Regions from separate parts of the Homo sapiens genome. Here region 1 is reported to be linked to region 2. Evidence: microRNA targets listed by miRTarBase, many of them from high-throughput screens and not tested one by one. Region 2 holds a microRNA gene; the other region holds the end of a gene's coding sequence.

Region 1 (4,379 bases), not on the chromosome of region 2:
AGGCCGCTGGAGTCCCACTGAGAGCTCGTCAGCCTCCGTGTCGCCTGTGGCTAAGGTCTCCAAATTCACACTCTCCTCAGAGCTGGAGGGCGGGGACTACCCCAAGGAGAGGGAGAGGACCGGCGGAGGCCCGGGCAGGCCTCCTGACTGGACACCCCATGGGACCGGGGCACCTGCAGAGCCCACACCCACGCACAGCCCCTGCACCCCACCCGACACCTTGCCCCGGCCGCCCCAGGGACGCCGGGCAGCGCAGTCCTGGAGCCCCCGCTTGGAGTCCCCGCGTGCACCGACCAACCCCGAGCCTTCTGCCACCCCGCCGCTGGACCGCAGCAGCTCTGTGGGCTGCCTGGCAGAGGCCTCTGCCCGCTTCCCAGCCCGGACGAGGAACCTCTCCGGGGAACCCAGGACCAGGCAGGACTCCCCCAAGCCCTCAGGAAGTGGGGAGCCCAGGGCACATCCACATCAGCCTGAGGACAGGGTTCCCCCCAACGCTTAGCCTCTCTCCAACTGCTTCAGCATCTGGCTTCCAGTGTCCAGCAACAGACGTTTCCAGCCACTTTCCTCGAATCATCCCACTTCCTCAGCCCCATCTGTCCCTCCGTCCAGGAGCTCTCACGGCCCCATCTGTTGTACCTTCCCATGTATGCAGTTACCTGTGCCTTTTTCTACACCTTTTGTTGCTTAAAAAGAAACAAAACAAATCACATACATACATTTAAAAAAAAAACAACAACCCACGAGGAGTCTGAGGCTGTGAATAGTTTATGGTTTTGGGGAAAGGCTGATGGTGAAGCCTCCTGACCCTCCCCGCTGTGGTTGGCAGCCACCCACCCCAGAGGCTGGCAGAGGGAAAGGGGTACACTGAGGGAGAAAGGAAAAGGAAACTTCAAACAATATAGAATTAAATGTAAAAGGAAGCACTCCTGTGTACAGATGCGATCAAGGTTCCTGTTTATTGCCACTTCACCCCCCTGCCCAGCTCGTAGCCACCCCTCTCTGCCAGCAGAAAGGCCAGTGTCCCCAGGCAGAGGGGCACAAACACAGGCAGGTGACCCCCACCCAGGCCCCAGCAGGCAGGCCCAGAAAAACTAATCTTTTCCTTTTTTTTTTTTTTTTTTTTTTTTGCAAGAAAATAAAATGATACTTTTCCTAGGATTTCAACACAAAATAATAGGTGCAGGTAGAAGGAGGAGGGCTGGCTCCCCAAGGGCTCCTGGATACTCTGGTAGTCTGAGTCATGGGCCCATCCTGGCACTCCACAGGTGGGCAGGCCACCCCACCCACGCACCCCCACTCCAGACACCTCCCTTCTGCACCCCACCCTGGCCCCCTGGGCTGGGGAAGGAGCCCTGACTGTCCGTCCCTGGCTCCCAAGCCCCTGACCGAGGCCTCACTCTCCTGTTGCCTCCTCTGTTCTAAAACCACCAAACCACCCACAAAGGCAGAAGTGGCAGGGCCCGAGCCCTAGCGGCCGTTCCTGAGACTGGGTTTTGGGTTTTGTTTCATCTTGGTCCCTGGGGTACAAGGGAGCCTGTTCCCCTCATGGCTGGGTTTTTCCAGTTCTCCACAGCAGAGGTTTGCGGGGAACTGTTTCAGGACCACTTTGCCACAGGACCGTTTCCCCCCGTCCCTGCCCCTGTCTCCACTACCCCAAGGAAATACCCACAACTGTGGCTGGTGGATACGGCCTGGACCTGTTTGCTGTCTTACACCTCTTTTTTAAAAAGAGAGAGGATGGTGTTTGATACTTCACCCAGCCACCACAGATTCTTTTGACCTAGAGGATTTTTGAATTGTCCTAACTCGTTGGAATTCTCCAAAGCAATCAGTGTGAGCCAGTGCCTCTTCCTTACCCACATCTCTACTTTCAAGAAGCTGCCCTGCATTTCCTGGGGCAAAACTCTACTTTGTAAGAAAAATAATAGGACCAGAAATTTAAATCCCAAATTGAACTATGGAACTTGAACTCTAGCGTGTTCGCCCCAACTGGGAGAGGTGAGCTTTTTCCCAGTGTTTCAGAACTGATTTTCTTTACTTTCTACAAGGGAGGGCAGCACAGGGACTACGGTTGAGGCCCGTGAAGGCTGGGTTTGATGCCACCCTATACAGAGCAGGGACCTCTCTGGCTAATCCCCAGTCCTCAGCCAGGCTGTGTGAATCAAGTGCCTGCCCCAGGGCTCTTGAGCTATTGAAGCTGCTTGGGTACAGGACACAGTAGGTGGGGAGGGTTAAGACCCTTCTGTGAGTTCCCTGTGCGGGGCTGTACTTGCCTCTTCCAATTCGTGGCCTTTCCCTGCTTGGTCCCTACTAGACAGACAAACCAGCCACAGTCCAGCCTGCAGCCAGACCACCTTGTTCACTCATTCTCCTTTGCCTCAGAGCTAAGACAAAAATGAGACAGAAGGCAGGGCTCCCTGGGAGTCCACTGTGCTCCAGGGTTCTGGGGAATCAGGGTTAGCCAGCAGCTCCTGGCTGCTTCCCTCAGAGACTAGGGCTCTCATCCTCCCCAAGAGAAGCAGCAAGCCCAGCCTGGACCACACTGTCCATATTGCTGGACAGTGGCCTGACAGAAAGTGACTCCTCCAAGTCCCAGGAGGCCAGGGCTTTTCTCATCCTTGCCTTTCAGCCCTAACCCATGGGACTGCCCACGGATTGGAGACTTCAAGGGCTGAGGTCTGGGAGCTGCATAAAGGGCATTGCTTCAGCCCAGGTTAGAAATCTGCCTGGGCAAGCTCTTCCTGCCCCAGACCTACAAAGCAGCAGACCGGGGGCTCTGGTGGACTAGCCCCTGACATTGGTGGGGGGCCCCACACCACTCCACCCCACCCTGCCTTCCAGCTCTCCTGGGCATTTTTCTCCCTGTACTCAAACAGCCTACCCACCCAAGGTTTCCTCCCTGGGCAGCCTAGCAATGAACAGTGCAGCCGGCAGGGCAGAGGCCCGGCAGTCACCGGGCCCGTCAGGCTCAGGCAGAGAAGCCACAGGGGCCAGGAGTCACTGGAGACTATTTCTAAATGATGGGGGTAAATGCACAAATAGAATCTCACCAAAGGGCTGCCTCCACATTGATGCCGTGCCCAGAGGGACAGAACCAATGCCACCAGCCTGGGTATATGTCACTGGGCACAGCTCTAACCCCCTCCTCCGGACTCTAGTCCCGCTCCTCTGCGCACAGAGCCCCCAGCCCACAGGTACACCTTCATGATTTGGAGAAAGACGCTCGCCCCATGCACGCCCTCCTCTGGGCCTTCTGCCCTGCTCCCAGTCACTTCCAAGCTTCCTGTTTGCCTGTGATGTTATTGTGCCTGTTGAGGGAAGCAGCAGAGGAGGCAGTGGCTGACTTGGCACAGATGCCTGCTACGTGCTCTGTTGAAATGCGCGGGGTGGCCATTCCTCGGTACAGACTAGTCCTGGTCCTTGGGTGTGGGCAGTGGGGGAGGAACCAACTGGTCGAGGTTTCAGAGCCAAACCTTGCCTTTGGTTGGTGAGTCCTTGCCCCCCAGGCCTGCGCTCCACGATGCCTTTCACCCTTGGCAATCTCAGGGCCATCCTGGGTAGTAACCCCACTCCTCTCTGCTCCCGCCCGCACCTGTGGCTCTCACTCTGGGCTCAACCCCTGCAACCCTCCAGGAGCCCGACAGCAGCCAGCTGCCTGCACTGTCGCCTCCGTAAGCTCCAACTTCCAGACCCAGAAGTCCCTCTGCTTCCCTCTGTTGGAAAAAGCCTAAAAGAATTAGCTTCCAGATTCCTCTAGCCCCTGCTCCATTCCCACCCAGTCCTTCTGAAGAGGAATGAGCAATACATCTGAGCTGGATTTCTCTCTAGTCCTTTCTCCAGACAAATCCTTCTTAAAGCAAAAGTCCTGGCTGAGCACCTGTCCTTGGGGACCGATCTGCCGTGTGACCAGGGGAAGAAAGTTCCCGAAAGCCTGTTCCACCAATTCTGCTTCTGTGTTGTGAATCCAGTCTGCTTTCCATTAGAAAACCGCTTCGGCACTTATGGTCACTTTAATAAATCTAGTATGTAAAAAAAGAAAGAAAGAAAAGAAACAGAAAAAAGAAACGTGCAGGCAAATGTAAAATACAATGCTCTCTGTAAGATAAATATTTGCCTTTTTTTCTAAAAGGTGTACGTATTCTGTATGTGAAATTGTCTGTAGAAAGTTTCTATGTTCTTAAATGGCAATACATTCCAAAAATTGTACTGTAGATATGTACAGCAACCGCACTGGGATGGGGTAGTTTTGCCTGTAATTTTATTTAAACTCCAGTTTCCACACTTGCATCTTGCAATGTTGGTATGGTATATATCAGTGCAAAAGAAAAAACAAAACAGAAACAAACAAAAAAAAAAAACAAAAATCCACGCAGGTCTAA
Region 2 (4,379 bases):
CTTGTAGCACACTGAGCTCCTTCCACCACTTAGGTGTCACTCTGACCCTGTCCTCTGCGTGTGTGTCACTAGGAGCCCCACCCATTCAGCTGCACTCTAAGTTCCTCCTCTAATCATGTGTCACACATGTAGTCTCTCCCCACACTCATAAGTCATACAGAATGCCTCTCCCCATCCATGTATCACATTGAGTTTCTCTTCAACATGTGTTACTCAGAGCCCTTCCCTGACTCATGTGTCACCTGGAGCCCCTGTCCCTGTCCATGTGTTACACCGAGTTCTTTCCTGCTCATATGTCACATGAAGCTCCTCCTCTACTCACAAGGCACACAGCACCCCCTGCCCGTTTGTCGAATGGACCCCTCACCTCATGCATGTATAACACTGAGCCGCTCTCCCACCCCGTGTCGTACTGAGCTCCTCCTCCACTGATGTATTGCATGGACTCCTTCTGACACGCGGAGCCCTCCCTGCACCCTTGTGTCTCACTGGGCATCTCTTCCCAACCTTGTGTCCCGTGAGATCTTCCCCCACCCACGTGTCACATCAAGTCCTCTTTCTTGTGTTACTCCAAGTCCCTGCCCCCATATGTCACAGAGAGACTCTTCCCACCCACGTGTCACACCAAGTCGCCTTTCTTGTGTTACTCCAAGTCCCTTCCCCCCATATGTCACACAGAGACTCTCTTCCCACACACGTCACACTGAGCCCCTTTTCTGTCTCACATTCCACCTCTCCTTCACTCATGTGTCATGAGGAGCCTTTTCCCTACTAATGTGTCACCTGAGCTTCTCTCACATGTCACTTGAAGTCCTCCCCTTCCCATGCATCACCCAGAGACCTTCCCCCCACTCATGCATTGCCCTGAGCCCCTCCCTTACTTATGTGACATGGAGCCCCTCTCCACACCCATGTGTCACACCAACCCTCTCTCCACTGATGTGTCACACCAACCCCCTCTCCACCCATGCGTCACATGGAGCTCTTCCCCCACCCGTGTGTCACACCAGCCCCCTCCTCCACCCATGTGTCACACTAACCCCCCCCACCCATGTGTCACACCAGCCCCCTCCTCCACCCATGGGTCACACCAACCCCCTCCTCCACCCATGTGTCCCATGGAGCTCTTCCCCCACCCGTGTGTCACACCAGCCCCCTCCTCCACCCATGTGTTACAGGGAGCCCCTCCTCCCTCCATGTGTCTGTCAATCTGAGCCCCTTTTCCATTCATGTGTCACTCTGAGCCTCTTTCCCACCTCCATACCCTCCTGCCACCCCTACTTCTTAATCTTTAACCCCTTTCCCTAAAGGTTTCCCTCCATGGGCTCTTTCAGAGAATGTTATATTATCAGGTCATTTACTCACAGATATTTTTGCACCACCTACCACGTGCCTGGCTGCGTGTCCCTGTGCATGTGTGTTGGTGGTGTGGATGGCTGGAGAGTGTAGGACGAGGCAGGCAGTATGGTGGTTGAGAAAGATGTCAAAGAACAAAGGAAGGTGTTTTGGGGTACAACTTTATTGAGATGTAATCCACATACACACAATCCGCCCATTAAAGCTCACAGCGAAGTGTGTTTTAGTTATTCACAGATATCTGCAACTATCACCATAATCAATTTAAGATCATTTTCATCACCCCCAAAAGAACTCCAGAGCCTTCAGCTGTCACCTTCACCCTCCATGCACACCCCCCAGCCCTCAGCAACCAAAAATCTACTTTCTGTCTCTGGGAAATTCTTGAAGTGCCCCTGGACTTCATGAGTCCTCACTGGGTCCCCAGAGGTGCCTGTTGCAACCCATTTCACAGATGTAGAAGGCAAGGCTGGAGAAGTACCAGGGAGTCAAAGCAGTGGGTGGGTGGGGTCGAGTCCCCGATGTCCACTCACAGACCTGGGCCAGAATCAGGCCTGTCTCCCCCTTCACCTCCCCATCCTCCGTCCCTTGGCCTGGCTGCACAGTCACCTGGGGGCTCTGTGGGGCTAAGGGAGGCCCAGGCCCTGGCCATAGGAGGCAGGTAGGGCAAGGCTGGGCAGGGTGGACAGGTACCCCAGCGCTGCAGGTGCCCAGCAGTGGGTGGCACTGCCTAGGCTGGCTGTCCCTTGCTGTCACTGCTCTAACCACTAGCAGCAGGCGTCCCCTCTGCCATCCGAGCGCTTGCACTGCGCTTCCGGGAGGAGGGTTGCGGCCCGTAGTCAGTAGTTGGGGGGTGGGAACGGCTTCATACAGGAGTTGATGCACAGTTATCCAGCTCCTATATGATGCCTTTCTTCATCCCCTTCAACCACGCGCAGCCCCCGGACCCTCCTCTGCACCCTTGGCTGCACGGGGACGCGTCCTCAAGTCCGCTGCTGTCCTGCCAGCCTCTTCCCGGCATGCTCCTTGGGCTCTTCTCTCTCTCTTCTGCAGCTCTCTGACTTCCTGGAGGGGAGGGCCTGGGGCTGGGCCATCTCTGAGGCCCCTCCTTGGCAGGGAACTATGCCCCTGGTGGGACACCCCCTGGGCTGACTCCACAGCCAAGGGCAGATAGGCCGGAGGGGGAGTTGGGTAGCCCTGGGGCTTCTCCCACTGAGGGGCTGGGGCTGTGCTCCCACACAGAGCCCTCCAAAGGGACCCGGCCCACAGGATGGATGGACAGACGTTGGAGAGATGGTGCCCCTTTGTGCCCAGGGTGGAGGGGGTGGGGCTTTGGCGGACCAGGGCTGGCCCTTTCTGTGCCCCAAGAGGAGGGTCTCCTCGAGGGGTCTCTGCCTCTACCCAGGACTCTTTCATGACCAGGAGGCTGAGGCCCCTCACAGGCGGCTTCTTACTCTCTCCTTAAACCTGTTCTGGAGACATTTCCCCTCTCCCCAAGGATTCCCAACTCTGGGTCCCCAGAAGCTGTCAGCTGGGCTCCCTTCTTCCCCTGTGCGTACCCTGCTCAGGCTGGGTACCTGAGGGTGCCCAATGGCAACATGAGCAGGGGGCACGGCCGTGGCCCCTGGTTCTTGGACCTCTGTCTTCTGCCTCTCTGACTAACTCAGGTCCTGTGCATGGCAGAGGTGACCCGCACCAAGCCCTGTGATATTGGCATCATTAACCCCATTAACAAGCCACGACAGCCAGCCCAGGCATGAGCATCGGGGCAGCAGGGCAGCCAGTGTGGGGAGAGAGGCCTTGCAGTAGCTGAGGCCATTAGAGAGGACAAGAGGGTGCAGGAGGGAGCATCCTCACCTCTGCCCTTCCCACTTACATCCCATCTCCCCTTCCTCACCCCTCCTTCCCCATGCACCCCTTCTTCCTGTAGGAGGGAGCACCCTCACCTCTGCCCTTCCCACTCACCTCCCATCTTCCCTTTCTCACCCCTCCTCCCCAATGCACCCCCTCCCTTCCTGCAGGAGGGAGCACCCTCTCCCCTGCCCTTCCTTCCCACCTCCCGTCTCCCCTTCCTCACCCCCGCTTCCCCCATGCACCCGCTCCCTTCCTGGTCTACCCCTCAGCTTCTGTGGTGTCAGGATGGGTATGCTTGTCTTTGTTGATCTCAGACAGGTGGACAGGGGTCTGGACGAGGCTTACTGTTTGGGTCTGAGGTCAGTGCTCATGGGCTTGGGGCATGACAAGGGTCTTGTCGTCCCCGCAGCAGGGCTCTGAGCGGGTGGGTGGAGCTTGGGAGTGGGGGTGATGGCTTCTATTTGTTGTCTTTCTCTTTTTCACTTTGGGAGCAACCGGGGTCACCAGGTGGGCAGGAGGGGACCTCACGTCTCTGCCCTGGGCAGATTGTTAAGAGCTGGTCAAGCTCCTGGCACGGGGGCCTGAGTCCAAGGCCCTAACTGGACCTGGGGCCGCCTGCAGGAGGGATGAGCGAGTCCGGACCCGAGCGGTGAGTAGCCCTCAGCTGCCTGGGTGGTGTGCTGTTGAGTGTTCCAGAAACTGGCCCTGTGTGCACCAGGGCTGGAGGCTGGCACGTTGGGCATCTCATGGGGGTGGGCTGGGTCGGGAAGGGAGGTTGATGGACAAGACTCAGCAGGAGTGGAGCTCAGGGCTCCCTCCATCCCCTGACATCAGTGACCTGGGGGTGGACAGAGAAGGTGGAAGATGGGTGCATTTAGTTGTGGCCCGCCAGGTCCCGTGGGCCTGTGTGCCAGTGTCCGCGCCAGGCTGTGCTGTCTGCTGTTCAGAGGAGTTTTCACCTTTTTTTGTGGTGGCCATGATGTCATAACCCAGCATGACATTTAACATTAACCTTCCTTTTTCTTTCCCCAGGAGAAAAAAAGGTTTGTATTATTTTTCTTTTGAATTTTTTATTTCCATAGGTTTTGGGGAACAGGTGGTGTTTGGTTACATGAGTAAGTTCCTTGGTGGTGATTTGTGAGATTCTCGTGCACCCATCACCTGAGCAG

What was found. Region 2 holds the annotated microRNA hsa-miR-665 (ACCAGGAGGCUGAGGCCCCU, at 2,774-2,793, shown strand). A microRNA usually pairs through its seed, bases 2 to 8, with sites in the 3' UTR of a target mRNA and lowers its output. Matches are read on the target gene's strand: a 7mer-m8 pairs with bases 2 to 8, a 7mer-A1 pairs with bases 2 to 7 and ends in A, and an 8mer does both.
Region 1: the mRNA of HIVEP3 is a reported target of hsa-miR-665. Seed matches in the 3' UTR shown: 8mer at 1,214-1,221, 7mer-m8 at 2,469-2,475 and 7mer-m8 at 2,844-2,850.

What each region holds. Positions count from the first base shown.
Region 1 is chr1:41,506,571-41,510,949 of GRCh38, reverse strand. HIVEP3 (HIVEP zinc finger 3) reads left to right here. Exons shown (of 9, transcript NM_024503.5): 9 at 1-4,379. The coding sequence ends at 499. Among named protein-coding and RNA genes, the nearest start is that of EDN2, 24 kb to the right of the region's middle.
Region 2 is chr14:100,872,302-100,876,680 of GRCh38, forward strand. MIR665 (microRNA 665) reads left to right here and starts at 2,732; the gene lies at 2,732-2,803. MIR337 (microRNA 337) reads left to right here and starts at 2,192; the gene lies at 2,192-2,284. RefSeq lists an enhancer at 1,371-1,540.